6 separate regions of the Homo sapiens genome follow, and regions 1, 2, 4, 5 and 6 are each linked to region 3. Evidence: fine-mapped expression QTL. A gene starts in region 3. Each other region holds a variant in brackets. All regions are shown on one strand. Distances are from middle to middle.

Region 1 (5,312 bases), 490 kb before region 3:
CTTACCCTGACACAACATGAAAGCTTCCCAGGAATCTGTTCTCTTAGGTCATTTGCTAGGGTTGCAGTGGATCTATACATAGCACAGTCTGATGGAGAATAGACTCATCTTCAACCCTGCTTTCACTCACTGGAGTGAGAAAAATGGATCAGATAAGGGAATTACAGAGCACCACCCACAACGAACCGTGTCGCATCATAGACAGCTAAGGAGTTTACGTAATTTCAAATTTATTTTATTCTAGATAAAAGTTTTAAAATAATTCAGCTATATACAGAAAAAAACTAGCACTCATCACTCAGATTCTTTTTCAGCATTGATATTACTTTAGAACTCTTTTTAAAAGAATAAAATATAGCAACAGCCATAGTCCTGTTCCTCCCTATTCTTTCCCTTCCCCTAACACCCTTCTCTGCACAGGTAACCACATCTTAACCTCAATGTGGGTCCTTCCTGACCAGTTTTTCATATGCGTTATGTCTGTCTGTACCCATAAGCAATATATAACAGATTTCTATATTTTTAAAATTTTACATAAATGGTATTATACTGTACTTATATGTTTCAATTACATTGCATTTAGCTACCAGTACCAGAAAAAAAGTCCTTCCACAGGATATTAAAGAACTAAGAATATTGTTTGTCTGCATAACAAGAAGTCTAGGGAAAGCCCACCGTGGTGGTCCTTGGCCCGCTGATGTCATCTATCCATCCTGCTTCACTATCCTGGTGTGTGACTCTTCACCTGTTGCTTGCAAGTTAGCAAACTAAACCTCAGAAGTTCACATTCCAGGGAGGACAAAGAGGGAAGACCAACAGCCAAAAGCCTTGCTCTTGTTAAGTTTTATCTTTCTTTTTGGGAAGGGGAAAACACCCACAGATGTTCACTGCATATTATTTGCTAGAACTGATGTACCCCTTGCTGCAAGAAAGGGCAAGTTGCTGATTCTTTTAACTTTTCAGCACCCTCAGTAGAGAATATCACCAGAAAAATAAAAAAGGAGGCTATTGATGACTTTTAGGTAGCCAGTCAAGAGTCTGCTCTGTTATCCTTTTACAACTTGCTTTTGCTATTCTTCACCATTATGTCTTTTACAATTTATCCATATTGGTAATTCTAGACACAATTCATTCATGTTAACTGTTGTTTAATATTTCATTATATATTACACTTTATTTGCGCATTTTCTATTACTAGACCTTTGAGGTGTTGTCATTTTTTCAGTATTCCAAAAATGCCATGTGAATATCCTTCTGTATATGAATATACCTCTTTGTACTCCTGTGAAAATTATACATATATAAGTTAAAAATATTTGTGCTATAAAACATAACACATTTAAAACACATATAAATCACATGCCAAACATTTATATATATTAAATATACATCTGTTATATATGTATATATAAATATATCTCATACCTTATTTTGTGTTTTCAATGTAAATGCTTTTTCTAGGGTTCTTGTTTTCCTCTTTCCTGATTTTGTTTGGATTGATTATTGAATTCTCTATGTCCCTTTTGTTGTTGTTGTTCTATTACTATGGAGTGACTCTTTCTAGTTTCTTCCATTATTTTAGTCATTATCCTTAAATTTTAGCCTACATAATTAACATAGAATACATAATTAACAAGCTCTGAAATAAACAAATATTCCTAGCATCATCCTGGACACTATGTATAAATTAAAATGCTTTAATGATTTTCATCCCTTCCGTTATTTATGCTATCAATTTGCTAGTGTTTTAGTTCTACCTTATTTTTAACCATTCAGTAATCATTATTATTTTACAATTAGTGGTTACTTTGGCTTCTCTACATGTTTAACAGTTTGTTTGCTTAACAATGCTTCATGCACCTACTCTTTCCTCTGTGTTCAGTTTTATTCTTTCTGAAGTTTTTCCTTTAGTGATTCTCTTACTAAAAGCATATGATTAGTAAATTATCTCGGTAGTAGTAATTTAGCAGTAATTATTATTCTTTTGCTTAAAAATCTATTTTGTCCTCACTTTTGAAATATAGTTTATCTGGATATAGAATTCAAAATTAACAAATATTTTCCCTCAGAACTTTGTTGATATTAGGTAATTATATTTTATATTTTTTTGTATTTATTTTGTTTTTGATATTGATTTAAAATATGCTCTGTAATTGTTATTCTATTTTTTAGCTAATCTGTCTTTTCTCTCTGGTTGATATTTTACTTTCT[A/CTCTA]TGTATTGTATTTTGTACAGTTTTACTACAGCAAATCTGAGTGTTTATTTTACTTATTCCACTCAGAATTTGATATGTTTCTTCAGTTCTACAAAAAAAATTTCTTAGAATAGTTCCTCTCTCACCTACCTTCTTTCTTCTGCAACAGATATATGTTGGACTATTTTTTAATTTATTCTGCATGCCCATTAACATTCTTTTACATTTTACCTTTCTATCTTTTTGTTTTTTAACCTGTGTTCTGGATGATTCCCTCAGATCCTGTTCTAATTCTCGGTTGAGCTGTGCCAACTGAGTTTTCAATTTTATTGCCTATGGTTTACACTCTAGATTTTAATTCTTCCTTTTTCAAATTGTCTAGAGTCCTATTCTTTCATTGTATTTTATATTTAATTTAATGATATTTTTAATTATTTAAATGCAGTTGTTTTAGAAAATCTTTCAGGCTGTTCTGTTTCTATCTTTTTACACTACTAGCTCTTCTTTTTAATGTTTTTAAATTATCTGCCTTCCCTTCATAGTGGTTTTATATACATATATATATATATATATATATATAGAGAGAGAGAGAGAGAGAGAGAGAGAGAGAGAGAGATTCACTCTTTCGCCCAGTCTGAAGTGAAGTGGCACCACCTCAGCTCACTGCAACCTCCATCTCGTTCCCCCAGGTTCCAGCAATTCTCCTGCCTCAGCCTCCTGAGTAGCTGGGGTTATAGGCGCCTGCCACCATGCCTGGCTAATTTTTGTATTTTTAGTAGAGAAGGGGTTTTGCCATGTTGGCCAGGCTGGTATCGAACTCCTGACCTCAGGTGGTCCACCCACCTCAGCCTCCCAACGTGCTGTGCTAGGATTACAGACCTGAGCCACCGTGCCCAGCCTATGTATATCTTTTAAATATTTTTGTGAGACAATGTTAGAATGAAATGAGAAGGATATTAATTTATATGATTCTTCAGGTCAGTTAAAGCAGCACCCACACATCTTTTGTGAGGGTTTTCTTTATAAATAGCATGGAGCAGAGCTTATCGTTCTCACTGTGGGTTTTCCCTTTGTTTCTTACCTCTGGGGATTTGAGTTCAGCTATGTGTTTAAAACATTGTTATAATTTATATACACAAATGCAGGAGAGATTTCTCTATCAGCTTATTTGTACTTGTATCTGGAACCATCTTTTAATGGCTTTCTGAGGTTGCATAACTTGCTTAACACGGTTCTATACACCTGTCAGCACTGAGTGATGTCATAAGGTCACCGAAAACAAATTTGAGGCCTTAAAAGTGGTTTCTGTACAATTCCTTCAATATATGCCAGAGATAATATCTGCTAATATGATTGTCTAAAGCTTAAGTTACAAATGTGTGGTCCACAGGCCAGATCTCATCTGCAGATGTACTTTGTTTAGTCCACACACAGCTTAAATCTTTTATATGCGATGCCAACATTTAAAAATTGGCAAATTTTACACAATGGTTTAGACTTTCAGTTTCTCTTAAACAAACAAGCAAAAATAACCAGAAAGTTCATGTTCCAACACTGCAGCCCTGTGCCAGTGTGTGGGAATAGCTGCTGGCTTGGTGTGTTGGGGTTCCCATCATTCTCCTGGGTTCCACAGACAGGTTGTTCCTTTCCATCACAGGTGTGGCCTTGCAGGCACCTGAGTTGGCAACTTCTGTTCTAAAGATTAGAACAAGTTATAGTGTACCATCAAAGAAGTCACCATTAGAATCCTACCAAATGTGTAAAGGGCTGATGAATCTGGTTAGCTGCTGAATGTTTGAGCACTCAGGCACTTCTTTAATACACTGAGATCAGGATGTTGGCCCTGCTCTTTTGATGCGCTCCAAAGGAAGTATATTTGTTATTTGGGGCAACAATCTAAAGTCCTGTAAAGAAAATATAGAGACCACTTGTAGTAAATATGAACATAATGCGCTCCATGTGGTTTAGACAAGCAGAAAAGGGGCTTTCACTTCTGCTTCATGTTGGTGCATTTGTCCCTTTGTGACGCTTAATGGTTCCTGCAGAAGCAGAGCCTCCAGAATTCAGTCTCTAACTTGTTTCAACCGGAGGGGCCCTCATTGAAAACTTGCCAGAATCTGTGGGCAATGAATAAGAATTGGACATGTTTCCAGTTCTAAAGTATTGCTTCTTTCTTGTTTTGCAAGAATTCAACAATATCACAGCTGAGTGGGAGTACTGTAAACTGTTATTAAATGGCTTTATTATTCTCTGGTAGGTTAGCTATTTATAATTTAGCCAGTACCTAATGTGGAAAAAGTAGCTTTTACTGTATTGCAATCTCTTCCATGTAAACTGTGTTCTCACATACTCGGAGGCATATTAATTGTGTTTGATTTGCACTTTATATACTTCCACCTTCACTCCACCCCACTTCAGTCATACTAAACTTCTTCACCACATCCTAGACAACTATTATTTTCTCTGAGCCTTAATGCCAGCCTCTCCTTCTTCATCAGGCCCAGTTCTGGTTGCCATCCCAACTCAGGAGTCATCTTCTCTCACTAGCACTCCCAGCTTGCTACATTTACTCTATGAAGACTGTGTCTGTCACCTAGTTTTATGCTTGGTTCTCCACATAGCTCTTCATCACTAGGTTTTGAGCTCCATAAGAGAAAACCTTACTTCTTGTCTTATTCATCTATGTGTTTCCAGAGCTTCGCACCCTGCTTGGCATGTAACAGGGAATCAACAAATTCACAGTACCTTGAATTAATTACTTCCATAAAGAACTTGAGTGGGCTTACAGGGCTAAGGAATATTTATTTCAAAAAGGATAACTAAAAGTAAAAAACTGTATCACTTTCTTAAAAAAAATGTGTATCTGGCACAAAATAGACCTTAATTTAGAACTAAATTTTATTCAGAGCATCCTGGCAACAGAGTGAAAAGGAAAGCACGTCAGTTTTTATGATTCTGCAGGTCAGTTAAAGAAAATACTCAAGTCATCAACAATGTGTTTTTTTCTGTTATCGAATTCTGTGAGAAATAAAGCATGAAGTGACGTCATAGACAATGTTCTTGATTATAGTCTTACAAAAGACACAGAAGAATTCTTCAAATGCACCTTCTAAAAGTCACCC
Region 2 (5,312 bases), 120 kb before region 3:
TTGTGTTGTGTACTTAAACAACACAAGTTTATTACCTTGTGTGCTGTGTACTTAAACAACACAAGTTTATTACCTTACAGTGCTAGGAGTCAGAAGTCCAAAATCAGTCTCACTGACCTAAAGCCCAGGTGTAGGCAAGCTGGTTCCTTCCCGAGGATCTGAGGGAAGAGTCTGTTTCCTTGCCTTTATCTGCTTCTGGAGGCTAGCTGCATTCCTTGGCGCAGAATCTTTTCCTCGCATCATTCCAACCTCTTGCGTCCGTCATCACGTTTCCTGCTACTAACTGGGATCACCTGATCCCTGCTCTATACGGACTCCGTGGTTACATTGGACCCACCTGGATGCTCAGCCTAATAGTCCCATCTCAATAGCCTTAATCACACTCGCAAAGTGCCTTTCAGTGTGTAAGGTAACATATTCACAGGCTCCAGGGATTTAGATGTGGCTATCTTTGGGAGCCATTATTCAGCCCACCACAAGTGTCACAGCCATGGGTGGGAACAGGAGTAAATCACACAACTGAAATACAGTTGCTAATCCTTAAAGGCTGAGCTCTGAGTGGCTGCATTCTCAAAGACAAGAGAAGTCTTTGTAATTTAGATACCAACTCTGCCTCAGGAAGAAGATACACATGTGAAGTGGGCTGGCCTGGGTTAGTGTGGCACTCAGGTCACCACAGGACATTCACATGGACCAACACAATTCCCAGGACTGGCACGATGTAAGGAGAGAATACTAATAGGGCCCAACAGACACCTCCCAATCCCGGCCAACTTGACATTTTAATGAGTAATTGACACCAGATTCTCAAATATAAAGAGCACCTAGCATGTTTAGGATCTGTGTGGCTTTATTTTACAATATATAAACTGGAATGAAAGCTGTGTTGTTCTACACGGTGTTCTTAATTATTTCTTCTTCTTGTTTTTATAGAGTTCTGGGTAGAGAATTCCTTTAGATCTTGTTTGGCAAGTAACCTGACCAAAGGTCCTAACTGAAGCTGGTGGTCAGCATACCGAGGTCCAAGGTGGCACTGAGGGTCAACGCCACACATGACAGTCCTGTTGACTGTGCCTCCCGTTCCGAAGTCAGGCATGCTGAGAGGCCCTCATTAGCCTGAATATCTCTCCAGCCACACCTGTCACAAGACTGTAAGTCAAAATCTGTTTCATATCAAGCTTGGCTTCCAAATGAGGTCTCTTTGAATACAGACTTGTCCTCTTTGGCCGCATGGCCATGAACAACTTACCTAACTCTTCTGAACATTAGTTTCATCACCTATAAAATATAGATAATAATCTATATTTTAAAATATATCTATAGTATATCTTGCAGATTATTATGATTGTAATGGATAAAGTAGAATTATAAATAATGTTGGAGCATAGCATTCAGTGAATAGTAGCTATTGTTATTGATATGTTTTTCTGACCTGTGAAAATGGGACAATGATATACACAAGATTGTTGTAAGAACTGAGTGAGATACCTTATGTTAAGCACCTGACACAGTATCTGACACTTAGAAGATGCTCGTAAGGATTCATTCCCAATCCCCTCTTTCCCTGCATCCTCACAATTACTCTGTTGAGGTTATCAAAAAGGGAGAACCATCGGCTCCAGGAAACTGCTGTCAAAATCAACCTTTCACCTGAGACAACCCTCCACCCCACCCTATACCTCTCCTGCCGGTTCAGAGGCATAGACTCATTTTTCAGATTATCTCAACGTGTACCCCTGCCCTTAGCCTGCCCCTAAGGAGACAGGGAAAACTGTTTCCAATGGGACAGGACACTAAGGTGTGCAAGAAGGTATATACTAGGGGCCTCTTATTGAAAGATCCTATGAGTGACAGAAACACAGCTTCATCAAGCTTAACAAGAAAAAGGTGGAGTGAGAGATTTGTTGACTCACATAACAGAAAAATCCGGTAAGCATATCTGGTAAATATGACTGGATCCAGGTATTTAAAAGATGTCAAGAATTGTCTTGCTCCATCTCTTTGCTTTCCTCTGTTCTCTTTCTCTTTGTCAAGAAGCAATCCGCCTCAGGGTGGTCCCTGATCACCAGCTTAGCACAGAGAGAGTCTCTTTCTCAATAGTTCCAACAAGATCTGTAGGCCAAAGTTCACTGAACCATTTTGAAACAGGTAACCATCCCTAGACCAGTCACTTAGCCAAAGGAATGTAGCATGCTTTAGCCAGGCCAAGGAACGTGCGCACCCTTGGAGCTCAGATATATATGTTGAGGGGAAGAGGAAGTAGTATCAGCTCCCGCTTGAATTCCATGGATTGAGAGTTGGGGGATGAGGAGTTTGCCAAAACAACAGTGCTAGGATTAAAAGAAGTAGAAGCAGATGCTGGGGAAGCAAAATCTTCCAGAAGACCTAAGATACATGGGGCCTGGGTCAGCCTGGCAACATGAGGTCTCCAGGCCAATGTAGCAGGCCCTGGAGGTGGGAGGAGAGACACGTAATTTCTAAGCAGCTCTTCAGGTTACAGTTCTTGCTTTGTCTGCCTGTCATTAAGTGGATTACCACAACCCATCAGCCTTTCAAAACAGTTCCTACAA[T/C]GTCCATGGTTCTTTTTATAAAGAACAGCGTGCTATGAAGAGCACTTTAGAAGAGCTTACATTCTCAGAATGTGAATCAAGGTCTGGGTTAAGCCAGACAAACAGTCATTTGACCTTGCTGCTCTGTCATGGACAAGCAGGGGTGAAAGGAAGGATATGAGCTGAGACAGGTGGGCAGAAGGAGGTCAGAGAGCTGATAACCCCGGTGCTTGAGTCACCTTGTTTCTCAAAGGATGCTCTGAAAATGGATAATAAAAACAAGAAAAGAATCTTAAAAATCAGTTTGTTGATCAGTTTATTGTGTGGGTCCCCACCGAACCTGACCACATTGAAAATGGCCATGTGTTCCTGACTCAAGGCATCCCATCTCCTAATCAGCCCTTAATCCCTAGTAGCTCTCCAGTTACTTCCATGGTTACCGAGTCCCCTTCTTTTGAACAACCAAGGGCCTCAGGAAAGACTAAATAAATTATAACCATTAGTTCCTTTTATCTACTGCTTTATTTCAAGGACTTCTGACAGGTTCAAGAAGCATAATTTTACTCACTCCCAAGGCATGCCAGCTTGTTCTGTTCAAATTCCACCCAACCCCTTGCTTTAGAAGACTTTTCAGTGATTCTGTTTGCGTCGTCTGTCTCCTTACAGAGGAGTTATATCATCAGTCTGTAATTCCCAAGGATAAGCCAAGGATTCTGCTTTGGCATCTGCAGTGTAAAATAAATGTGGCTTAAATTAAAAATAGAGCAAAGTTCTGACCTGTTTGGCCATGGCTCTACATCGCCTGCTTTTCAGGATGAAGTGGTTTTGCACCAAATTGGCAAGATAGCCAAAAATATGCTTAACCCTGGCCACAGATGAAAATCATTCAAGGAAGTTTTCTAAAATAACCAGGCCTGGGCTTCACCCCAAACCAATTAAACACACATCTTTGGATTTTGGGCCTAAGTTCCGGAATTTTCTTTCAAGTGTGCAGAGGAGTTGAGAACTACTAGGAGAAGATGTTGGGGATCTCGGGACATTGAGTCCAAATCGGCATTTATGATTCATCTTCAGGCTGGTGTCACCTGAGAAAAAAGTCTGAGGAGCTGTGAGTCCCATTTACCGTGTCTTGGGTATGTAAGGAGTACAAGTTTATGAATTAAAGGATCTTGAGTCAGCTTTAAAGGAGGTCAAATTTCCGTGCTTATGAGAGAAAAAAAAAAAACAACAACAACTCTATCCAGTCATAAAGGAGGACAATGACTGATAGAGGAAGTTTGTCACAAAAAGTATAAAAGATCAGACCATCTGGGTACAATTAGCAAAATCTTGCAGTGACAACACGTCAACATGTTCACTCTTCCCAGACTTGGATGCTCATTTGCTATATGCCCTTGGATGCATCTAGTACCCTCCCTTGCCAAGTTTACTAACTTAAGGAATGAGCATGACCTTCGTGGTACTTAAGAGATCCTTTAAAGAAACAAGAGGCATTCACCATTATCTAAAACTAACTTTTGACCTATAATAACTGAATGAAAAAGCAGTCAGCAGAAGTTAATGGAAGAGAGGGGCAAGTCCTCCTAATAAATGCTACCTTTAGCCCCCTCCCCATTGCTTTAATTCTGTTACTTAAAGGAACAAGGTACAAAAATTCTGGAAATGCAACAAACTAGGTAGAGAATATAAGGCTCCCTCAGTGCGCTGAAGATAAATACTTTGAAAAGTAAGCTAATCCAGAGATACTCAGAACTGAATTATGTTCAGGGTAAATTGAAGATTCAGAAGTCTTAATCTGTTAAAAAGTGTAAAAACCCACAAGTTTTCAAAGAGTACCCCAGATCTACAGATGTATTTGTGTGTTGTCAAAATTTCTTTTTTGTTACAGAGAAACAGGAAATAATAATAAAACTGAAGTGGAGGAGATGGTATTAACTATTGCAAAGCCACTTGACAATGAAAACTAGCACATAAAAACTAAACAATAGGCCAGGTGCAGTGGCTCACACCTGTAATCCCAACACTTTGGGAGGCCGAGGCGGGTGGATCACAAGGTCAAGAGGTCGACAGCATCCTGGCCAACATGTTGAAACCCTGTCTCTACTAAAAATACAAAAATTAGCTGGGCATGGTGGCACGTCCCTGTAGCGCCAGCTACTCGGGAGGCTGAGGCAGGAGAATCACTTTAACCCGGGAGGCGGAGGTTGCAGTGAGCCGAGATCACACCATTGCACTCCAGCCTGGTGACAGAGTAAGACTCCGTCTAGGGAAAAAAAAAAAAAACTAAACAATAATATACAGTGAGAAAGACTAGAGTCAAGGTTGATATACCAATGCATCTTGGCATTTATTCTTTGAGAGTCTTCAGTACTCCTAAGACAAGTAGCTGAGAAGGTGGACTTAAACTCTTTTTTTTTTTTTTTCCTGTGAGATGGAGTTTCACTCTTGTTGCCCAGGCTGTAGTGCAGTAGCGCGATCTCGGTTTACGGCAACCTCCACCTCCAGGGTTCAAGTGATTCTCCTGCCTCAGCCTCCCAAGTAGGTGAGATTACAGGCACCTGCCATCACGCCTGGCTAATTTTTTTTTTTTTTTTTTGTATTTTTAGTAGAGATAGGGTTTCACCATGTTGACCAGGTTGGTCTTGAACTCCTGACCTCAAGTGATCCGCCTGCCTCAGCCTCCCAAAGTGCTGGGATTACAGGCGTGAGCCACTGCACCCGGCGGACTTAAACTATTTATGTGAGCTCCATTGTCAGAAGGAC
Region 3 (5,312 bases):
TTAGCTGCCTTTCAGGAAAGAGACTGGAAAAATGGAAACGAGGGAGGGGAAGGAGATTCTATCTGAAGCTGAGGACAAGTAACACAGGTGAATCCAAAGTAATGGAGGCAAATATTAAAAAGAATATTATTTATTATCTTCTTTATTAATACTCACATGTAACCTTTGCTTTTTACACAAAAGTCTGCTTTAGAAGAATGCCTCCTCGGCTTATCATGCCCAATGGGGCTTTTTGTTTCTGGACCACTTCCCCTTTCTCCACCCCCACCCCCACATCCAAATTACTCTTAACATGTTCACAGATACCACGAATATTTTGTAAACAAGATTTGGGTTACTGGAACTTGATTTCATTAACATCCCACTTCAAAATGGAAGGCAGGTGGAGGACAGGGTAAGAAATAGGAGAAAGAGGACAAGAGAAGGCAAAGAAGAAGAGGGGCACCTGGTCAGAACGTTCAAGTCTTGCCTTTTCTTAGGGGTGTGTATTTTGTGGCTGTTCCTTGAAATGCACTGACTCAAAACATTGACAGCAAGTGTGTGTGTGATTATTTATATATCTATAATAGAATATGTGGGCTTCCTCCGTTTGAGTCTGGACTGTGTTTATTTAAACACACTACGATCCTCTTTATAGGTATCACCACAGGGAATCAGGTCTCCTGGGAACCCCTTTTAGAGACGGGGCTTCCGAAGCAGGGTCTTGCTGAGGTCTTTGACCTCCTCAGGGCTGTTGACCCGCTCATAGCCCAGGACGGCCATGGGCTGGTAGCAAAACTCCTCCACCTGTTTGATCTGCTGGAAGGTGAGGGCGGTCCGCCAGGCATTGGCGGCCTGCGTGGCATTGCGTGCAGATACCACGAAAGGCTTGGAGGAGGAGCCCGAGCCACTGGTCATGTTCAGGGCAAACTGCTCCATTTCGGGGCTCACCAACAGTCCCACAAAATCGTACACTCTCCGTAGTGTCTTGACGGGGTCTCCCACCAGGTCCTCGTACCGCACCACCAGGTAGTGGCCCTGCAGCCAGTCAGGGGGCTGCAGGGCTGTCTGCAGCGTCTTAGCCATACTATTGCAGATGACCTCCATAGCGCCCAGAGCGTGGTAGTCTGCGGGGCCGCCCACGCCCTCCTTCTTGGCGCCAAGCTTGTGGCCCGCGGCCTCCAAGAAGGGCATGCGGTGAGCTCGCGGGTCTCGGCTGCGCACCACCTGTAGGCTCTCACGGATGAGGCCGTGGCGCGAGCGGATCCGTGAACTCGCCACCGCGCGGGGATCACGCACCAAGTGGATGACCTTGAGGTCCAGGGCCGGGTCTCGCAGCAGTGGCGCCAAGACCGCCACGTCGAAGACGCGCACACCCTTTATGACTAGTGTGCGGTACTTGCGGCACTCCTCCTCGAAACGCGCCAGGCGCTGTGGCGGGCACTTCTTGCACACGCGGTCGTCCACCAACCCCACGACCTCCTTGCGGTAGGCGGGGCAGAGTGGTGACGAGCACACCACCTTGTTGGTGGCTGCGCCGAAGATGCCCAGCGTGGTGAGGTTGCGCCCCCCGCTGCCCGCGGGGCTATACAACTGGAAGACAGAGAGGTCGCAGCGGTAAAGAGCGCTCAGCATGTCCCGCGCTGCCCCCTGCAGGGAAACGGCGTCCCCCGGATACAGTTTTTGCCATACATGCCACACTGGCTCGTAGAGAAAGAACACCTCGGGATTCTGGTTGAATAGCTCGCCGAAGAACGACGAGCCAGAGCGCCACGTGGTGAACACGTACACCAGCTGCCGCTTGTCCCCGACGCCCCCGGTGCCCCGAGTGCCATTGCCTGGAGGGGCCGCAACCCCCGCCATCCCTGCCGCGGCTGCAGGAGCCGCCCCGACGGCGGCAGCGGGAGGGCGGTAAGGAGTGCGGAGGTCCAAACGGGCATGAGCACGGGGCGGCCCGGCCGGAGGCGGCCCTGGGCGCCCCCAGCTGCCTCCGGCTGCCCCCGCTGCGGCACCCAGCGGCCCATCGGGGTTGCACTGCTGCAGCGGCTCCTTGTGCCACTTGTAGTCCAGGAGGTTGAGCATAGTGAGCACCAGCAGCAGTGCATAGCCCGCGCACAACACCAGCGCCTTCCTACGGAACACCTTCATTCCGAGAGGGGACGCGGGCCAGCGGCGTCCTGGGCGCCGGGGCCACTGCGGGAGCAGGGCACGCGGCGCGGCTGCAGGCGCAGCCTGGAGCAGCCGAGGGAGCGCGCCCGGGGGCAGAGCTCGCTGCGGGCTGCGGCTCATCACAGGCACAATCCGGGCCGGCGGCGCGGCGGAGGCAGCCCTGCAGCCCGGGAAGGGGACGCAGCGGGCTGGCTGCTGGCGCCGGGACTCGGGCCGCGACTCCGAGGCGGGCGCGGCGGCTGGTCCCCAGCGCCCAAGGCTGGCTCTCCCATGGCAGCGGCTCCGGGTAGGACCTGCGAGGGGAAGCGGAGTGAGCGGATGCGCCCCAATCTCCCTCCCAGCCTCCTCCTCCTAAGTAACGCCCACCCTCGGTTCTGCCCGGTTCCTCCGCTCACCTGGAGCCGAGGGCGCGCCCGGGAGCGGCCCCGGATCACCGCCCGGCGGACTGTCCGGCTGTCACTCGTTCCTCGATTTCGCTCCCTCTCGCTTCCGCTGGGGGTCCCCGCACCTTCGAGGGGTCTGGGGAGTCGGCCGACTTATCCCTGGGCAGTTTCCGGGCAGCGGGCGCCCTGCGGCTCGGGAAGAAAAACTTTCACGCGGCCCAGAGCCCCGCTCCGCGCTCCGCCGAACCCGGCGCCTCCCGGCTCCAGCGACGTCTCCTCCGCTTTCTCGGGACCGCAGCTTCCTGTCTCGCTCAGGGGAACGAAGCCGGCTGGGGGCGATGGCTGGGGGCGGCTTATATGGGACTCAGCTCCCGGCATAGCGGCGCAGCCCCTCTCGCTTTCGGCCTCCGTGCGGCGAATTTTCCCACCTCTCTGGCAGCGGTGGATGGGGCACAGCGCGACCCCGCAGCGGCGGCGGCGGCTGCTTCCATCACCGGGAGGATGCCCGGGCGGACAGCGCAGGCAACCCCCGCCGCTCCGCAGCCTCCGACTGGACCAAAGGACCCCGAACACACAGCTCTAGGCAAGGAAACCCAGGTGTGCAGCACTGCCCGACCCGACCCAACCCGCCCCCGGTACCAGCGCTTCTGGCCAACGAGGTATTTAAGCAAAGAAAGACCCCGCCGCAGCCGCCGCCGCCGCGCGAAAGCGGCGCCCAGGAGGATGCTGCTACCCGACTCCCCTTACGCCGGGCGCCCGCAACGCGCTCGGACCAGCCTCTGCGCGGCTCCTGCCAGCCGGCGCCCGGTTGGTGCGCGCCGCCGTCTGTCGCCGCGGCTCCTCCCCTCCGCCGCGCAGCCCTCCCCCTTCGCCGGCCCCGCCCCCGCCCCCAACGCCGAGCCGGCTCCCACCGTCGCTGCGCCTCGGGGGCTGGAGACGCGACCCGCTTTACCGCGACGCGCGGGGGCTGCAGTCCACGGGTCCGAAGGCTTAGCTCTGCGCGCAAAGCGCCGGGATGCGAACGCGGGATCTGGAGCTCGTCGGTGCCGAGAGCTGCCAGAGAGTTGGATTCTGCGTGCAGCTGCCGGACTCGGCCCCATGTTTTTGCTCTCAGAAAGAGTTGGTGATGAAGTTTGGGCAGAAATCCCCTGTCGGCCGTCCGCTCCACGCTTCCCTCGGGGCCGACACTGCCAACCTCTCCGGGCACTGAGGACACCTCTGCGCCCTGGAGCGGTGGGAGGACGCGGAGCGCCGTTCTCTGGCTTCCGACACCCTGCCCGCCCTCTCTAGTGGGTCTGTGGCTGCGCCCTCTCGAAGGAAGTAATAAATCTTTCTGACCTTGGGGGTCAGAGGAGACGCTTCAGTTTTCCGGAGGGGTGTGCGGGCGGGACCGTCTTTCCGCTTTACTGGACCTCTGGCCGGGGCTGCTCTTGTTTCATTGTGCCCCACATGCGGAGCCCCGATGCTCTCCGCATTTCCGCTCGCGGTGCTGCGTCCACTGTGATTGACGTCCTCTGGAATTGGGGTGATGGGGGAGGGGAACGCCCCGTTCTAATTTGCAGAAAAATACTTGTCCCGCTTCTTGGTTTTGTAGATGAGATCAAAGAACTTGACCCCAAAGGAAACACCGTTGTTGAAAGAAAATCATTTTTCAGTTGCTTTAGGTTTAAGTACTTTTGTTTAAGGTTATGAGGAAAAGCGTCTCTCTCTCCCCCCAACTCCCTCCCTCCCCAAGAACACTAAGCTGTAGCCTCAACTTCATCTGTAGAATGGGGACAGTTGTAACAGCCTCCGGAGACTGAACGGTGGTTGAGTATCAGAGCGCGCACACGAAAGGTTAGACCTGAGTTCAGGCCTCCAAGTGCCGAAAAGGGAATCTCCGTGGGGCCTGAGGCTCAGCACCCTCGGATAAACAGAGCTCTCGCTGATCCGGAGTTTTGTTGCCTCCTGTCCCAGTAGAGTTTTTAGAAGTTACTGCACAATTATCTTTGTAGCGTTTCGGGCAGACTTTTCAGAGGACCGTTCTAACATTAAAATATTGCTGTTTGCGCCATTATTCTTCCATGAGTCTTACAGAATCCCCTGAGTACAAAGACTTGAAAAGTGACTTAACTCGCTTTCCACGGGTTTTTAACTCTCTTACGGATTTAGTTTCAGGGGAGAAAAATGTTCAAAAAACTTATTTATCCTTGTTTTCCAGAAAAACCCATAATGTCACGAGTACAGTTCAGCTTATTTTTTCTCCTGGGGAGGGGGATTGGGACAAGGACAGCAGAGCTCAAATTTTATATCCAGCTTTCTCAAATAATATGGCATTGCCTCTGGAAGTGGGTCGAGACAGGCAAGAATCCCTGTTAACAGATGAAGGTGGTAGAGTTTAATTGAGCGACTCCCCATCTTTTCCTTTTCTGGAATCCCCAGCCTCCCTTCGCCTACTCTCTCAAATGCCCCTGCCCCTTTTTCACCACCTCTTTTACCACGAAAACTAAAATGACATTGGTGCATGAAAAGACTGATGGGAGAGAGAGGGAATTGGGGAGGAAAGTAAATCTCAATTTTAATATTCAACATGATTCCAAGAAAAATAATTTCTAATATTTTTCATTTAGTTTCTGGCTTTGTGCTTACCCAGAAAAAAACTGAATTGCATTAGTCGATGTAGGGACCCTTTTTAAAAACAATTGTTTGCATAGAAATAATTCCGTTTGCAATTTTGTAACACTTTACTGGTGTTGGCAAAATAGTAAATCCATTTGCCAGGTGCCCCCACAGTGCTCAGCT
Region 4 (5,312 bases), 260 kb before region 3:
AGCTATTTCTAAACGGAGCTTCCTCTGCTGATAAAACAAATGAGATTACAATAAAATACAAGGGAATTCAGGGTGTTGATAACTTCTAGCATATGAATGCTTAGAACTAGCATGTACTTGCAAGCCTCTCTATGGCAGCAGGAAGTCTGGAAACTTTACAAAGTATATGATGGCTCTTGGAATGAGGCACTTCATAGTTCAAATCCCTACCCAGCAACTTGCTAGCTAGCCAACTCAGTGAAATTTACACAAAGTATGTCCAATGCATGTTGCACAAACAACAAATTGACTTATTTCTCCTGGATAGCTTCTCATTTATCAGGTCTAAGGCCCAAAAAACTGTCTAGGTGATCCATCCTTTGACTTAATTGAGCAACAATTATCTACAGAGACCTGAAAATCCTTTGGGGTAATTGTTTAGAACAATGAGTTCTTCCCTCATATATTAGTTCATTTTCATAATGCTGATGAAGACATACCCAAGACTGGGTAATTTATACAGGAAAAAGGTTTAATGGACTTACAGTTCCACATGGCTGGGGAGGCGTCACAATCAGGGCAGGAGGCAAGGAAGAGCAAGTCACATCTTACATGGATGGTGGCAGTCAAAGAGAGAGCTTGTGCAGGGAAACTGTTTTTAAAACCATCAGATCTAGTGAGACCCATTCACTGTCACAAGAACAGCATGGGAAAGACCCATCCCCATAATTCAACTACCTCCCACCAGGTTCCTCCCACAACACATGGGAATTGTGGGAGTTAGAATTCAAGATGAGGTTTGAGTGGAACACAGCCAAACCATATCACCTCAAGTAGGGGAAATGCATTCTCCAAACTGAATTTGAACCTAACGTCAAAGTAGAATCTATCAATGTCAGTTTTGCACTACCATTTTAAACTCAGTACTTGTCACAAATAAGAAAATGTAGGGAAATTTTACACCTTTTTGCTGAAATTAGAAGTAGGCAGACATAGATATAATAGGAGAATATCATAAATAAGTGATATTGCTTAATGAATTGTGTTATGAGCGTATTTGTATTCTAAGGGAATCCCTCTCTTTTATTTCATGCTTGTTTTTCCAATAACACCATCAATGAGGCACAACTGGTGAGTTTTCCTGGGCAAGACACTGCTTTCCTGGCACACACAGATGTGAAAAAGAAAGGAGCCTGTGCTCTGTGGAAAAGGCTGGGAAATTAAGTTGGTGATGATCCTGGCTCTCATGTACTTTGAGGTTTTTTGTCACATGTGTTCCAAGGCCAGGCAGTTTCCACAGACTCCATTGTCCAGGAAACACACCTAACTGCAGGATGGAGCACAGCAGGGGTGCCCAAAGCACTGGGATTAGAGCCAGCCTGGTGACCTTAGAAAGGAGATCAAAGCCCATCTCCTTACACTGGTGGGCTATAATGAATAGTCAGTAATGTCTGGTGGTGGCTGATTTTTAAAAAGCATTTTCATCTTGTGTAGGTCAAATAATTCATTCTCCTACCTTCAAGAAAACTTTTATCTAAATTTTGTCCTTCTTGTATACCTTTTTCTTTAAAAGAAGAAAAGACACAATTATAAAATTCATCAAATAAAATTCTCTGTCTTCTTCTAACTGCCTAATATTCTACAATCACATATACTGTTATTGGTAAAAATTTCCTACTAGCCTAAATCCTTTCCAATTTAAATGTATTTTATTTTATCTCATTCATGTGACACTTTAAAACAAAGTTCATCATTGTTAAATCAGTAATAACCCTTACCTGAAGATATTATAGCAATTAAAGTTACTTTTTTATTAGAGAAATAGGATAGCATAACATAGAACAGTGAAAATTCTGTGATATTTGGGTCTTGGGCAAGGTGTTTACACCTTTGGGTCTCAGTTTCCCTCTCTATAAAATGTAAATGATAATAACGTCTGCCTCTCCAGGATGTTATTTATGATAATCAAGGGAAATTGGGTTTATGAAAATGACCCAACTTAATTAAGCTAAACCCATCTCATTTTATGGATGATTGGAGGCAGCTTAAACCACCACATATAATAGTAACATATTTTTATAGAAATTTTAAAAATCAGTAAAAAATATTAATAAGAGCAGATAGTCAAAACCAGAGGGGTATAAAGAATCATGGATAAGCAGATCATAAGGCCTTATAGACTTACTGTAGTCAAACCATAAGTAAGCTTTCTGATGGCCAAAGGGGAAATAAAGAAATAATAATTGGTAATATATTAAATTCACATCATTAGAAGGAAAAATAATACCCTCTCCTCAAGTGACACGAAACATCACTATGTTTTTAAAGACATTTCTCACTTGGGGCCTCCTGTAGAGGACACATACAGCACTATCTAAATGTTAAGTAAGTAGCGTTATCATTGACATGGC[G/T]CCTCCTGAACTGCTGCTACCTACAAATGATTTCATTTTTAAGAAGTATACTGTAAGTGTTCTTATTCATGATAATGTTCGATTACCAAAGAACTTACGTTTCAGAAAGAGGTTTTCTCCACACATTGGGATAATGCTTATCTTCAGTATCAAGTACAGGAAACAGTGGGCTCTGATGGGAGGTAACAAGCTGCAGTGTCCTCACAGCTGCCACTGAACCTGGACCGTTTTTTGGTACTTCCCAAACTGTCAAGAACCTCTCTGCTCTCATTTTGCCTGGCAACACCTGTCTTATTATCAACATCTCTTGCTCTGTTGGATTATGTAACATAACCCCAATTCTTAGGAGGATTGTATGTTTCCCCTTGATTTGCATTTATTAAACTGGGTTTGCATTAACAAATAGGTTAATCTTTGTAATGGGCAGCCTTAACACATACACAGAAACCCTTCTTACTTACCAAAGGCTAAAAATTTTGCAGGTAGTTATAGCTGTTACTGATTATACACTCTCAAAATCAAGAATAAACTATATATATATATTTAAAATTATATATATTAATATGTTTTTAAATTTCTTCTTTGTTCTCTGCTGTGGAAAGTAAAATAACTTTTGGGAATGTGAACTTGTAGCTGTGGCTAACTAGTAATGTCACAACTTTCCTTTTTGCCATACAATACCTTTAGAATGTGAATGGTGTTACACAATTATTTGTACCAGGCACAAAAGCTTTAGAGAGCATGTTCCATATGCAGATATCACACTCTGGATGCATACTTCATGCAAACGTGCTAATTTGAGAACTGGAAGATACTGCAGTTGTGAATTTTATGCCTCTTAAATGTGAAAAACAAAACCCTCAGGTAGCCTCCCACACAACAGGAAGTTTCCCTTGTAATTGATTCCTTGTACTTGAAAGCACACCTTTTCAGAGTAGGTGAGAGTCACTGGAGCACCACACTTGCCTTCAGTCCTTTAATAGAAAACTCCTGCTACTCAAGAAAGGCTGCCAGTATTGCTTCTCTTTTTCCCTTTTGCCATTTGATCGTACTCACTCCCATATTCGTTGGGCACTAGCTATTATTCTTAACACTGCTCTGAGCACCTTATATGCGTTTGCTCACTTAATTTCCAAGATAACCCTGAGTGGGTACTATAATTATCTGCATTTTACAAATAAGGAAATTGTACACAGAGACAAAACTTGCCCAAGAACACACAGAAGGGAGAGGTGGAATTTGAACCCAGACAGTTTGGTTCCAGAGCTTCCACTCTTAACTGGTATGCGTGCATGTATTCATTCATTTATTCATACAAGTAATTCTTGGTACCCACTCCTACGGCACTAACGTAGATGTGAGGATTCAGGAGTTACCAATTCAAAGCTCTCTTCCTCCCAGAGTATATACTCTATTGGGGGACACTGATAAGAAAAAGGTAAACTGCATTCTATACATTCAAAGCATGATCACAGTAAAGCAGGTCAGAGGATAGAGAACAGGCGAGGAGGCTACTTGGTCAGGGTAGAAGTGGCATTTGATCAGAGGCCAGATGATGTGTGGAGGAAACAATCCATGTGAGAAGGGGTTGAGGAGAGGTAGTCTGGCAGAGGCTACAGCAAGTATGGAGGCATTGGAGTCACAGTGGGTTATGGTGTGCACAAAAGCAGCAGGAAGGCCAGCATGGCTGGAGCTGAGTAAGCAAGGTGGGAGCGGATGGAGAAAAAGTGGGAGAAACAGACAGGGGCAGGGGCCAGACCATTGGCCATGGTGTTAGGTTTGAGTTTTTTTCTAATGTGATAGACACCCTTGATGGTTTGGTTTGGAGCTTGGAAGTAATAGAATTAGCCCATTAAAATAAATTTCTCCCCATTCCACCCTGCCAGCTGTTGTGATGAGGATAATTTTCATCTTTTTTCATACAATTTCATTTTCTAACACTATGCTTGTTACTTAATGGTTTCTCGACGTTACCTTCCAATTTTCTTTTGTTTCTGAAAGTCCCTTCATTGAAATTCTGGTTTTGGTTGTCCTTTATTCTTGTGTGTAACCTGGGTGGATCCGTTCTGGTCACTGCAGCACATGAAAGTCAGCAGAGCTGAGAAAGGTCTGAAGAAGGGCAACTTCAATAACTGACAGAGGGACCTGCTGCCAGAGCAGCAGGGATTAAAAGGATTAGGATTTTTCCATCAGAAAGACTAGAACTACGAAGGGGCACAACAAAGTATCTGTAAAAATATGAAAGGTGTAAAGCGAATGAAGACTTGTTTGCTAACTCCCAGAAAACCATAACCTGGAATACCTTTGAAGCCTGGAAGAGGCCATGGGTGAATAATAAAAGTATTTGTTCTTTTGCACAATTGATAGTTCTTATTCAGGGCCTTCCAGAGTTGCAAGAGTTGGAAATATAAGTAGGTTCAAGAAGGGAAGAGATTAATTTAGCAGATAGTGGGGTCATCATGGTCATTAAATAAAATTTTTCTTTGTGAATATTTTCAAATGTTCCTAATAAACACAAAGATAAGAGAATAATGAATCTTAACATACCCATCCCCCAAACTTAACAGTTATCAACATTTTTCCATACTTTCTGCATTTACTGCTCCTGTACTGTTGGAGTTAGTCTCATAGAGTGTAAATTTCACACTACACTTCTACGAATATTTCAGAAATAGAATACGAGTCTCAAAATTTGATGTGACCCAGGTGAGAGCTTTTGTAATGTTATGTCATTCCAATGTCATTGTAACTAATGGTATTTTGAGAAAAATAAAATAAACATTTCAGAGAAAATATCTTGGGTTTTCCCTTGGCCAACATTGAATTTATTTTGGTTATACTTACTTATGGCTTTTAGATTCAAAATTATGTCCTCCCCCTACTAACTTTTTACTGCATAGGACTAAATTCTAAATTCTATAT
Region 5 (5,312 bases), 96 kb before region 3:
CCTGGGCAACAGAGCAAGACCCCATCTCAAAAAAACAAAAAAACAAACAAACAAAAAAACCTGCTCTTTTTTTGTTTATCTCAATCTGTGTTTCCATTCCTTTGTCTCTATCTAACAACCTCTAACCCAAATTTCTCCAAAGCTATCAGGTTGGCATTTAATACGTGAAACTTATTTTAAGTTCAAAGTGGGAACTGAAAGAAATCAAAATACTTTACCCCAAAACATATTTCTTTGACATATTTTGAAATGGCTGCCAGCAGACTGAAGTGGTCTTGCAAAACTGCCTTTTGTGGGGGAATTTGCATCTGTAGAGAATCTCCATTAATGCACCCAGGTGTTTCCTTTCTGGGCCTTTCTGGGATCTAGGAGAGATGAACTGAGTCTGACACTTTAAAAGTCTGATATATACTCTTCCTCTCTCTCTCTACACACACACACACACACACACACACACACACACAAACACACATACAATTCTAACAAAACTTGGAAAAGGCATTTGAAAGCTTTTATTGCTGCTTACTGACCTGGAAGATGCCTATGATTTCCAAATTTTCATTTCCAACTGAGGCCATATCAACAAATATGTAACTGTCTCTGCACCCTGTGGGTGATGTTGTTGTATTCATCATGGGCAGTAAATGCAGGGCTGTGTGACACACCCTGAGCTTCTCACCCTGAGCCTGGGCCATGTGGCCAGCTGGTTGGGAATCACTAGAAAGATGCCTTCCTGCAGCTTAATTATTCCCCTCACTCATTCTGTCCACCTCTTCCCGTAATCACTCCACAGTGGAAGCAAATCTAGAGACAATTTTGTGAAAAACACAATAGTTCTTCTTTTTAAATGCAAAATAATCAGTCTTCCCCCAATAGCACTTACCCAACCACATAAAAGAGCCAGCAAGACCTCTATCTAGAAGCAAGTTTGAGAGAACGACCCCACAGATAGGAAGCTCTAGGACAGATGCAGCTCCCTACCATAGCAGCACATGCTGGGCTTCTCTGCCTCAAAAGCCTTCAACTGCATGGTTTAAATAAGCAATTTCATGTTAGCTGCTCCTATTTCAAGAAGACTTGAAATAATGTTTTTCTGTAAATTAAAAAGAGATTTTATTATTATAACAAGTCAAACAACAAGAAGAAAAGATGTTAAAGAAAAACAGGAACACCCTCCTCCCTCCCCACCCCTAAGGGCATCCAAGTTAGAAACTTGGCCATATACTTTCCCACCATTTTCATGATCATTTCAATGTTTCTGGGCACATATGCATATGTACAAGGTGGATTGTTTGTTTCACAGATATTTTTAAAGATACTATACCACACACATTACTGCACAACTAAATTACTATTTCTACTTAGATAAGGTATTAATTAGACTCTGGCTTTGGTTCCAGGTAACAGAGATTCAAATGAACAACACAGAAATTTTTTCTAAAAATAAAATTAGAATTAAAATTAATTTTTTTTTTCTAAAAAAGGAGTCTATTTCTGCCTGACTTAACAGAAGTCCAGGGACTTTCTGGAACTCTGTGCCATATATTGAAGAATCCAAGCTCTTTCTGTTTTATTGTTCACCTTCTCCAAGCAGTACCCCTCATCCTCATGGCCTAAGTTAGTTTTCCATCACAGCCAGGTTCCAGGAAATAAGATGGAGGAGGAAAGGGGGAAGAAAGGGCATCCCACCCCACTCTCCACCTCCTTTTAAAAACACAGCAGAGAAGTTGCTCATCTCACTTTCCCTCATATCTCATTAACTGATCACATGGCTATACCTGGCTGCAAGGGAAACTGGGAAGTATAATCTTTTTTTCCTGGCAGCTATGTACCCAGTGAAAAATCATTGAAAGGGGTGGACTTATGAGGAGCTAGGAGGGGAGGTGTAACAAGCAGGCTTTGCCCCAGATAGAGCACCTCCTATAATACATGTTGCTGTAAATCATTCTTTTTAATAACTGCTCAGCTTTCTAAAGTGCAGCTGTATCATAGTTTGCCCAGCCATTCACCTATTTCCAAAAATCTGGGTTATTTCCAGGTTCTTTTTGTTTGTTTTCCCTTTGCCACAGCAAGCAAGAATATTGATATTGAGTGGGAATTTATCAAATACTTTTAAACAAACCTACTGCATTTTAACTCTTCTTCACTAACAGGTGGAGGGAC[T/C]GTCAAATCTCTCTTCTTCTATATTAAAGACTCTTGAAGAAGGATGACGAAACACATGTAAAAGGCCACAATCCTGTCTTGTTTTCTCTTGTCTTCTAGGTGCTTGTTATTTCCTTCTCAGTGAAAGGAGCTGCAGACGCTCACGTAAATAGAACTAGACATACTTACTTAACTAAGAGGAGGCTGCCTTTAGGGAAGAACAATGACTTTGCTTATTTTCTTCAGACAACAGATTATAAGCTATATTCTGGGAGGTAAACTCTTCAGTTTCACTTTCCCTCTGAAGCTGAGAGTTTGTAGCTCTGGGATTCCTGGCAGGAAAATGGCTTTGGGTTAGAACAGGGATTCTCTGTAATCTGAATGCACAATTATAATGCAGTCTTGGGAGAAAAAAATAAAAAGAGGAAAGGGGGAGGAAAGAAGGGAGAAATGATGAAGGAAGGGAGGAGGGAGAGGGGGAGAAAAGGTTGTGCAGCAACACTTGAGCACCACAAACATGACCAGACAAGAGGACCTCTGTCTTGGTTAAGTCTCATTGGTTGTAAGTAACGAAAAGTAACTCAAATTGGCTTCAATATGGAAAAAAAAAAGAAATTTAGGAAGATATAGGAGTATCTCAGGAGCCAAAAGGAAGGTGGAATAAGGGAAGGATGGAAGCCAAAAAGAGGAGATCTATCTGGCAATCTGCTTCTTGTTTTCTTTCTGCAGGCCAGCCTAGAAGCGTCTCTATATACGTATGAGCAGAAGGTAACAATATCAACTCCCAAGACTCCATCCTATCTCTTCAAAAGACCAGCCCAGGCTGACTAGTCATATTCTTAATTCCGAGTTTTTGGAAGAAAAAAATCTAGTTGGTCCAGCTTGGGTCAGGTATCCACTCTTAGTTCAATCAACTCTGGCCAGAGAGGCAGGGTCTGGAAGTGGAAACCTGGCTTCTGGGACTTCAGCCCTGTGAATAAAAGTATAGTCCTACAAGAAAGTATGACTTGGAAAAGCTAGGATTCAGTTCTGCTCAGCCACTTGTTCCTCTGGCCTTAGACAAGTCACTTAAACTTATAGGCCTCGTCTTCCTCATCTGTAAATGAGATAACAATGCTTACCTCAGAGAATTATCATAAAAATTAAATAAGGCTGTAAATATGATACAAAGTCTTAGTGATCAATGGAACCATGAGTAAAGAAGGTAAAACAACATGAAGTGTCAAATTGGTAACATCAATTTGAGAACACAAATTTATCTTCTCCAATGTTGTCATTTCTGAAAGTGGTCCAATAGCAGCAACTGCATCCTGCCAATCAGCAACTCAAGATATTACTCCTAGCACTCAAATCTTGGTCTATAAGAAGAATCAGGATCCTTTGAGGGTAGAAGATTCCATATTTTGTGAAAAGGAAAATTCAGATGAGTCTGGAATAAGTAAGGAAGCTTTAAAGAGTGTTATGGTCAGTATTAAAAGTAAATGGAACCTGTGTGAAGAGACTCTGACTGGGGAACTTATGATAATTTGAGCACAGATTGATATCACACTTTATAGTTAAATAAGTTTTTGTGTGTACATGAAAGGCCATGAATTCTCAATAACACTCAAAACAAAAATGCTAATATAAATTATTCAAAATGGCAATTGTAATGGAAAAGAAATGTGAACATAATAAATTATGCTTAATCTGTATTGATTTATTACAAGTATAAAACCAAAGTATTGTTTTGAGTGTTTTTAATGTGTTCTGGAGATTATAAGGCAACTATATATGCATTTTTTCCTTAATGTGGGTTGGCAGGAAATAGTGAACATAAAAAAAGTTGTCGGTAAGCCAAAAAATTATGGAAAAATTAGTGGCCGTGTATCATAACCAGAGACACGGGGAGTCTCTGTTATATATCACATCTGTTAACTATGGTGGTTGCATACAGTGACCCATTGCAAAGGGTTCAGCCAGGTGCAACAAGATGATGAAATGGCATGTTGCAGACTAGCTTTCCCAGGAAACGAACTCTGAGATGGAGATGGCAGGCAGGGGGTTTACTGTGGAGTGTTCTTGGGAACAATTCCCATAAGAGAGTGAAAGAAACAGGACAGAGGAAGAAGTTGAAATGAAATACAATTGCAAGAAAGGCCATAGGCAATCCCGTGGGGAATCATAAAGTTGGGATGGCCCTCCAAGTGGCCCAAGGTGAAGCAATAGGCCAGGCTTTCCTACCCCTGCATTGACCAGTTACTAAATCAGGCTTTACCCTAGATCATGACCTTGGACAAGGTAGCTTCCCTTTGACTGAGGGAAATTCTTGAAGAGGGACTTATCTATGAGCCATAAGCAGGCAACATTTCTGGGGAATGAGTTCCTTGATAGGGAAGGAAGGATCTGGGTGCACTACAGCATTCCCTACACTCCACTCCTTGTACCATTCAAATCCACTCCCTTCATATTTGTAAGTCTATCCCATTTAGAAGCAACTCCTCCAGGATTCCAGTTGGTCTCTTTTCCTGGGAAAGCTTGCAAGGGAAAGGTTAGTGGGGCGAACTTAACAGATCCCACCACTGCAGCTGGTCTCCAGTCTGCAACTAGAACATAGAGGTTTCCTGGGATGCAAGATTTTCAGTCATAAAACCAGGACAGTCTGGGGCAAACTGGGGGGGCTGTTACCTTGGCAGAAACTGATACTCAGCCTTTCAACTGATACCTCAGCTTCCTATTCTAGATGTCCCACACCATGAGCTAGCAACGCTGCCAATCTTGAGTTCCCTGTTCCTGACAGATCTAAATTCCTGGTTACCATGCTCTTTTTAGGCCATCAAGCTGCACCTGACCACTTACCCTCAAAATTAGCCAGACAAGAGTCAACTCAATTTCTTGGGTGCCAAACATATTCTTTCCTGCCCCATTGTGAAACACTAGTCCTTCCTTCTGGGTATTATGGTAAATTAACTCTGCAAAAATGGTGACTCTTTTTCCTTACTTGCTGGTCTCCTGGTATAAGGATTCCAAAGCGACTAGGTGCCACTCATAGTTTAAAGTTTAATGAGACTTATACAGTGTTGCCTAGTGGATAAATTCAGGAACTGTAGACCTAGAGTAGAGATGGAAGCAAAAATTCCTCAAATGGGCCACGGAAAGTGACAGTAAACTGTACCACCACTATATGTACC
Region 6 (5,312 bases), 480 kb before region 3:
GACTATGGAAGAGGAAATCTTGGCTTTAAAGCGCCATTATGCTCACATGTGGTCATCAGCATTCTTATCCACAAATCTTGGAAATGCCATTTCAAATGCTATATTTTTAGGAGGGCTGCATCTTAAATGGCCCTCAGGGACAGAGTTGAAACTGAATGAAGGGAATCGTTTTCCAAGGTTAAAGGGGTTTCTTTGGGGAAGTCAAGTGCTATCATTATCCCTATTGTACGGGTAGCTTCAGCAACTTACCCAATAATACAGAGCTAAGCATCAGATACCATATTCAACCAGGAAAAACAGAGTTAACCTCTATAATTTTAGACTATAGAATTGCCCCATTTGTGTCTATATTTCCTAGTCTTTTAAAAGAAATTATTAAAACATTTAAAATAAATGAAATATTTATTAAAGTACAATAACTATTATTAAACAGTTAAATTAAGATATTTAAGCATTAAAAATGTCTAGAGGGTAAAAGAATTGTTAAAATTAACTAAGTCCTTGTAAAGGCAGCTAGTGAATGTTTCGAGCAATTGACCTGTTCCAGCTGGCCTTCCTCACTGGAGAGAACATCTTAAGAGGTGGACGTTCACCCAGATCTCACGTTGAGATCTTGAAATGTGTTGACCTAGTTCTTGGGCCTGAGCCAGAACCTTAGCTGATGTCAGGAGCATGCACAGGAAGGAGGCTCTTTGCTCCAGACTGGGCTACGTGCTGCTGGTCCCATAGTGAACAAGCCCTGGACATGCCAAAACAATGTGGTCAAACAGCCCTGCTCGCCTCTAACTCTTGGCTGATTTGAGACAATAAATGACACAACACCAAAGTTAATTTCTTACATGATAATATTAAGGACAAATAAAACCTGTAGGAACAATTAGTTTTTAAAACTTGGAGAAAGACATTGGCTAAGAATTTAAACAAAAAAGGACATGGGAATACTGCTGTATATAGGCTGGAAAGGCAACAAAGTAGAATTTCTCCAGGAACTGCAGAGCAAGTCTGAGCCAGGGGAGTGTGAGTGCAGTGATGATGGCAGCAAGGGGTACTGCAGGAACAGTGAGGGTAGAGGGGGGATGTTGGAACAGTGGGGGGCATGGCACAATGCCATGTAGCAAAGTGAGAGTGTCTCGAGACCAGTGAAGGTGTTTCCTCCAGAAAAGCCTATAGAAGGGGCAGTGATCATGCAAAGTCATGTTCACATTTCATCTGATGTAGCCACTTATCAAATTACCTTCCAATAGATTCTTTATAGTAAACTTAATTTGAAAGCAATGATTTATTTGAAATCTGCAGCGCTGAGTTGGCACCAGAGGTGGGAGGGTTAAATACATGAATTTGGAAAGTGGTTTAATACCAGATTTTGAAACTGCACATAGAAGCACAAATGTTAAAAACAATCTGTGGAGGTGGTGTGTGATACAGTGAAAGAGCAGAGGTTCTGCAGAATAGAAACGCTGGCTCCCCCATTGACTGTTGAAATGGATTTCGCCAAGTCATTCAACTTGACTGAATTTCAATTCCAAATTCTACAAAATGAAGCTTACCACAAAATTTATTTCATGGGAATATGAAGAAATGCAGATGAGATATTGTTGAAGTCCCTTTGTAATTCTAAATTCTGAATTATTTTAAATTTGGGGGTGGGGAGGGTTACAAATGATTTCCCATCTCAAAAGACTGATTGTTAATTTGTATATTTATTGCCTATCTCCCTGAGTCCTTCCATGTCATATTCACTTGCATATCTCCAGCACCTACAATAGGGCCAGGCTGTCAGGAGGTACTCAGTAAATATTCATTGAATGAATAAACATGAATCTCAATAGAAACATTAATATCAGAATTACATCAAAGACAAGACATTTTGAAAAATAACCCCCCACTGTCATTATTGAGACTGTTTCTCCCCTCAACTTCCCATGTCTAAGAGAAATGAAATGTGTGCTTACACAAATACACTTGCAACATTTCCGCTTACATCCCCATTCACCACTTTGTTATGCTCAGTTGAAATAAATCACACAGAACTTCCTCCCTGCATTATTCTTCTGATCTCCAGCAAGCCCTGCCAGGAGTGAGAGAGGCAGCCCAGTGGGTCTCCTCTCACTTAGCCTTGGGCACAGTGAAAAAGAGGATTTGAAGTAGTTGAAAACATTTGTGGAGAAAATGTTTTCAGCCTTATGGTTAATTTAACAGTCTATATCTCCTATATTTCATTATTTTAGCTCCTCATGATAGCTATGAAATAATTTCCTAATTCTTTCCTTAGCCATGGTTGCTGACCAACATAGACATTTTCATGCTGATCAACCTCTCTGATTTATTGCGTTTTGGGAGGGTGATCTCAATTCTATGTAGGGAATAAGAATGTCACCAATCTCTGCAGATCATTGATATTTAGAAATAGTAGAGTTATTAGCTTTAAAGCTCAACTTACCCATGTGTTAATATTAAAATCTGATAAATTAATGAGTTCTACTTGTTGTATTTTTCACACACTTATAGAATTCT[T/C]GTCCATCCAGGGGAATTTCTTTCAGTTCTTGCTTCTCTTTAAGATAGCAAAACATCCTTTCTTATGGCTGTATAGTATTCCATGGTGTATATGTGCCACATTTTCTTTATCTAATCTATCGTTGATGGGAAACCATCATTCTCAATAAACTAACACAGGAACGGAAAACCAAACACCGCATGTTCTCACTCATAGGTGGGAGTTGAACAAAGAGAACACATGGATACAGGGAGGGGAACATCACACACCGGGGCCTGTTGAGGGGTTGGAGGCTAGGGGAGGAATAGCATTTGGAGAAATACCTAATGTAGATGATGGGTTGATGGGTGCAGCAAACCACCATGTCACATGTATGCCTATGTAACAAACCTGCACATTCTGCACATATATCCCAGAACTTAAAGTATAATTATAAAAAAAATTTTTTAATTAAAAAAAAAAGGTAGCAAAACATCTGGAAGCAGTACCGGGCTGGTAGGTAAAACGCCAGAGAACAATAATCGGGACAGTGACTGTTTAGTTGCTTTATGTTGGACAAGTGCATTCTCCAGAATTTTTTGTTTTGATTTGGTTTCTGGGATTTTTCTTAAATGGAAAGAGGCATTGATATCTTACTTCGATGATAAGACAGATGAAATATTCTGAGACCCTTTGATTTCTTACAGGTCTTGAGGGACGCATAAGATTTTTGTTTGTTGTAATTATTTGAAGTTCATTACATATTTTGTTTATGTATGACATTTTAATATTTAAGGATGCCTTGAAGGAATTTGGATTCCTTATTGCTCATAAAGCTTGTCGGTGGTCAGCCAGTAGCGCCATTTGCATCTCAATAGTGCAAAGGAGAGAAATGATATTTTGCAGGATCTTGGAGAGTATCCCTGGCAAGGTAGAATCAAACACAGGCAATTGTTGTGCTCATAAAGCCCCACGGCTTCTGTGGATTATGTGTAGGTCACATCTCAACTACAATTAATAGCAACCACCACCACTAAGATTGCTGACTACTCAGATGTTAAGCACAGCCGTATTTCTTTGCAAACAGAGGCTCTCCTTATAGAAGAAAAGAACTACTTATGCTTTCCAGGAAAAGTCCTTTTATTATTAGATTCCTGAGCATTTGGCGTTTTATACTGTTTATAATTCAATGCTCTTAGTAACAACAAAATAGCTGTAACTGATTGGCAAAATATAAAGAAATTCAGAAACATAATTATGTTTTTTACGAGTTAAATAGTTATATGAGATGGAGGACTATGGACAGGAAATATAATTTCTTTTAAAATCCTTTCCCCATGAGGCACACGGTAGGCTTTCTTCACCTAACTATTCTTCTGCCACAGTCCCATCTGGTGCACTGCACCTATGTGACAGAAGAAATAGCTCTCCAGGTCAGTGAGGGGGTAACTCATTTGAATCTTGTTTAGAATGAGGGATTGAGGCGACCTGTGGGTTCTACTTACATAATTTTCAGCATCTGGCTTGGCTAGCAAATCAATGGCCTCAAAACAAAAATAGAAACAAACAAAAGATTCCTGTTCCCTGAGAAAGATAATACCATTGTTCAGGAAATGGTGAGCTTGACAGGTATCTTTTTGTCCTTATTGGTGCCTACCAGACCACACACAGAGAAAACCAAACTCCCTCCATATTAAAGGACAAGGGCAGCAGCAGGCAGCACGCTTCCTCTAACTGGAAAGTGGAGAATGATTTTAAAAACTTGTGTTGACTTGCTTGCTTGCAGCATTTTAATAACATGTAGGTAGGAGGCCACGGGACTTCAGAAAAACAAGTACTGAGCCCCATCAGCAGTGCTTGTTCTTGTAATGTTCCGGGGTAGCATGTGCGGATTTGGAGGAAGACGGTGTCTTTTTCAAAGGAGGCTATTGGAGGAAGTTATAATCACAGTGTAAATAGTGATTCACTGGTACAAAGAATCTGCCTGAGAAAACTGGGTAGAAATTGAACGCTCACTAGCGCCACTAATTTACCCTCCATTAGTGTCCTGAGCTTCAAGTGAAAGCAGGAGGCTCCTCTCAAGGCACAGCTACAGCCCCATCCTTTGGCTCTACCTGGACTTTTAGACACATCTCCTTAATTCTGGAAAAAGACAGGAGTGCCATTACATCTGGGCTTATTTCGTGATGCTTCATGGAAACAGCTGCGTTGCCTGTCTTTGTATGGATACAGTTTTTAAAAATGAAAATCGCCATGGCAACAGCTGCAGCTACTTATTACAGAGCAGTGGAAATGACGCTGGTATCGGTAGGGAAAGCTATGCTCTCAGAATAATGTGTCCCTTATACTGGATTTTACCCACTAACATTTTCATTTAAAAAAAAAAAGATAAAAGTTGAGAATGTGTTCAAAAGCAATTTACCAGGGACTGGAGAGCTCAGGGAATTGGTAAGTGGGTACAGAACCTTTTGTCTGCAGGCCCCGAATTGAGCTGTTGACAACAGCTCTCGATACTGCGATTCTAGGGAAGGCAGCGCCCACTGCTTATGTTTAACCCCACAGTGCCGAATATGCCACTCTACACAGAGTTGCATAATGGCGTTGACAGTGATGATTAGAATGTTAATTGAAGCCAGTTTTCTGCACCTTTTAGCGCCATACCTTCCTTACAGCTTTGATAAATCTCTACATTTGAGACTATAGGAACCACTTGGCTCCTGCCTGCCAGTAAGTGTAAAATAGTTTAAAAGTAAGCTTTAATTTCCTCTTAACTCTATTCTGAGATTAACAACATCTTTCATGGCTGTCAGATCCTGGGGTCCAGGTCCACACCATGCTG

Evidence for each region. PIP is the estimated chance that this variant, and not a neighbour inherited with it, causes the effect. A credible set is the group of variants that fine-mapping cannot tell apart.
Region 1: its variant is the best candidate, but not a certain one, in a credible set for the expression of CHST2 in whole blood (INTERVAL, PIP 0.89).
Region 2: its variant is the best candidate, but not a certain one, in a credible set for the expression of CHST2 in whole blood (TOPMed, PIP 0.74).
Region 4: its variant is the best candidate, but not a certain one, in a credible set for the expression of CHST2 in blood mononuclear cells (TOPMed, PIP 0.62).
Region 5: its variant is the best candidate, but not a certain one, in a credible set for the expression of CHST2 in whole blood (TOPMed, PIP 0.56).
Region 6: its variant is the best candidate, but not a certain one, in a credible set for the expression of CHST2 in whole blood (INTERVAL, PIP 0.66).

The regions. Positions count from the first base shown.
Region 1 is chr3:143,603,895-143,609,206 of GRCh38, reverse strand. All of the region lies in intron 6 of SLC9A9 (solute carrier family 9 member A9), which reads left to right. Among named protein-coding and RNA genes, the nearest start is that of SLC9A9, 240 kb to the left of the region's middle. The variant A/CTCTA (reference allele first, on the strand shown) is at 2,212.
Region 2 is chr3:143,239,640-143,244,951 of GRCh38, reverse strand. No RefSeq gene overlaps it. Among named protein-coding and RNA genes, the nearest start is that of SLC9A9-AS1, 100 kb to the left of the region's middle. The variant T/C (reference allele first, on the strand shown) is at 2,571.
Region 3 is chr3:143,117,773-143,123,084 of GRCh38, reverse strand. CHST2 (carbohydrate sulfotransferase 2) reads right to left here and starts at 3,314. Exons shown (of 2, transcript NM_004267.5): 1 at 2,544-3,314; 2 at 1-2,441. The coding sequence starts at 2,268. The coding sequence ends at 676. RefSeq lists enhancers at 673-1,314, 1,957-2,598, 2,922-2,971, 3,257-3,756, 3,952-4,081 and 1 more and silencers at 1,772-2,131, 2,192-2,391, 2,452-2,531, 2,582-2,631, 2,662-2,711 and 1 more.
Region 4 is chr3:143,376,659-143,381,970 of GRCh38, reverse strand. All of the region lies in intron 13 of SLC9A9 (solute carrier family 9 member A9), which reads left to right. Among named protein-coding and RNA genes, the nearest start is that of SLC9A9-AS1, 37 kb to the right of the region's middle. The variant G/T (reference allele first, on the strand shown) is at 2,391.
Region 5 is chr3:143,214,019-143,219,330 of GRCh38, reverse strand. No RefSeq gene overlaps it. Among named protein-coding and RNA genes, the nearest start is that of CHST2, 97 kb to the right of the region's middle. The variant T/C (reference allele first, on the strand shown) is at 2,164.
Region 6 is chr3:143,597,656-143,602,967 of GRCh38, reverse strand. All of the region lies in intron 6 of SLC9A9 (solute carrier family 9 member A9), which reads left to right. Among named protein-coding and RNA genes, the nearest start is that of SLC9A9, 250 kb to the left of the region's middle. The variant T/C (reference allele first, on the strand shown) is at 2,515.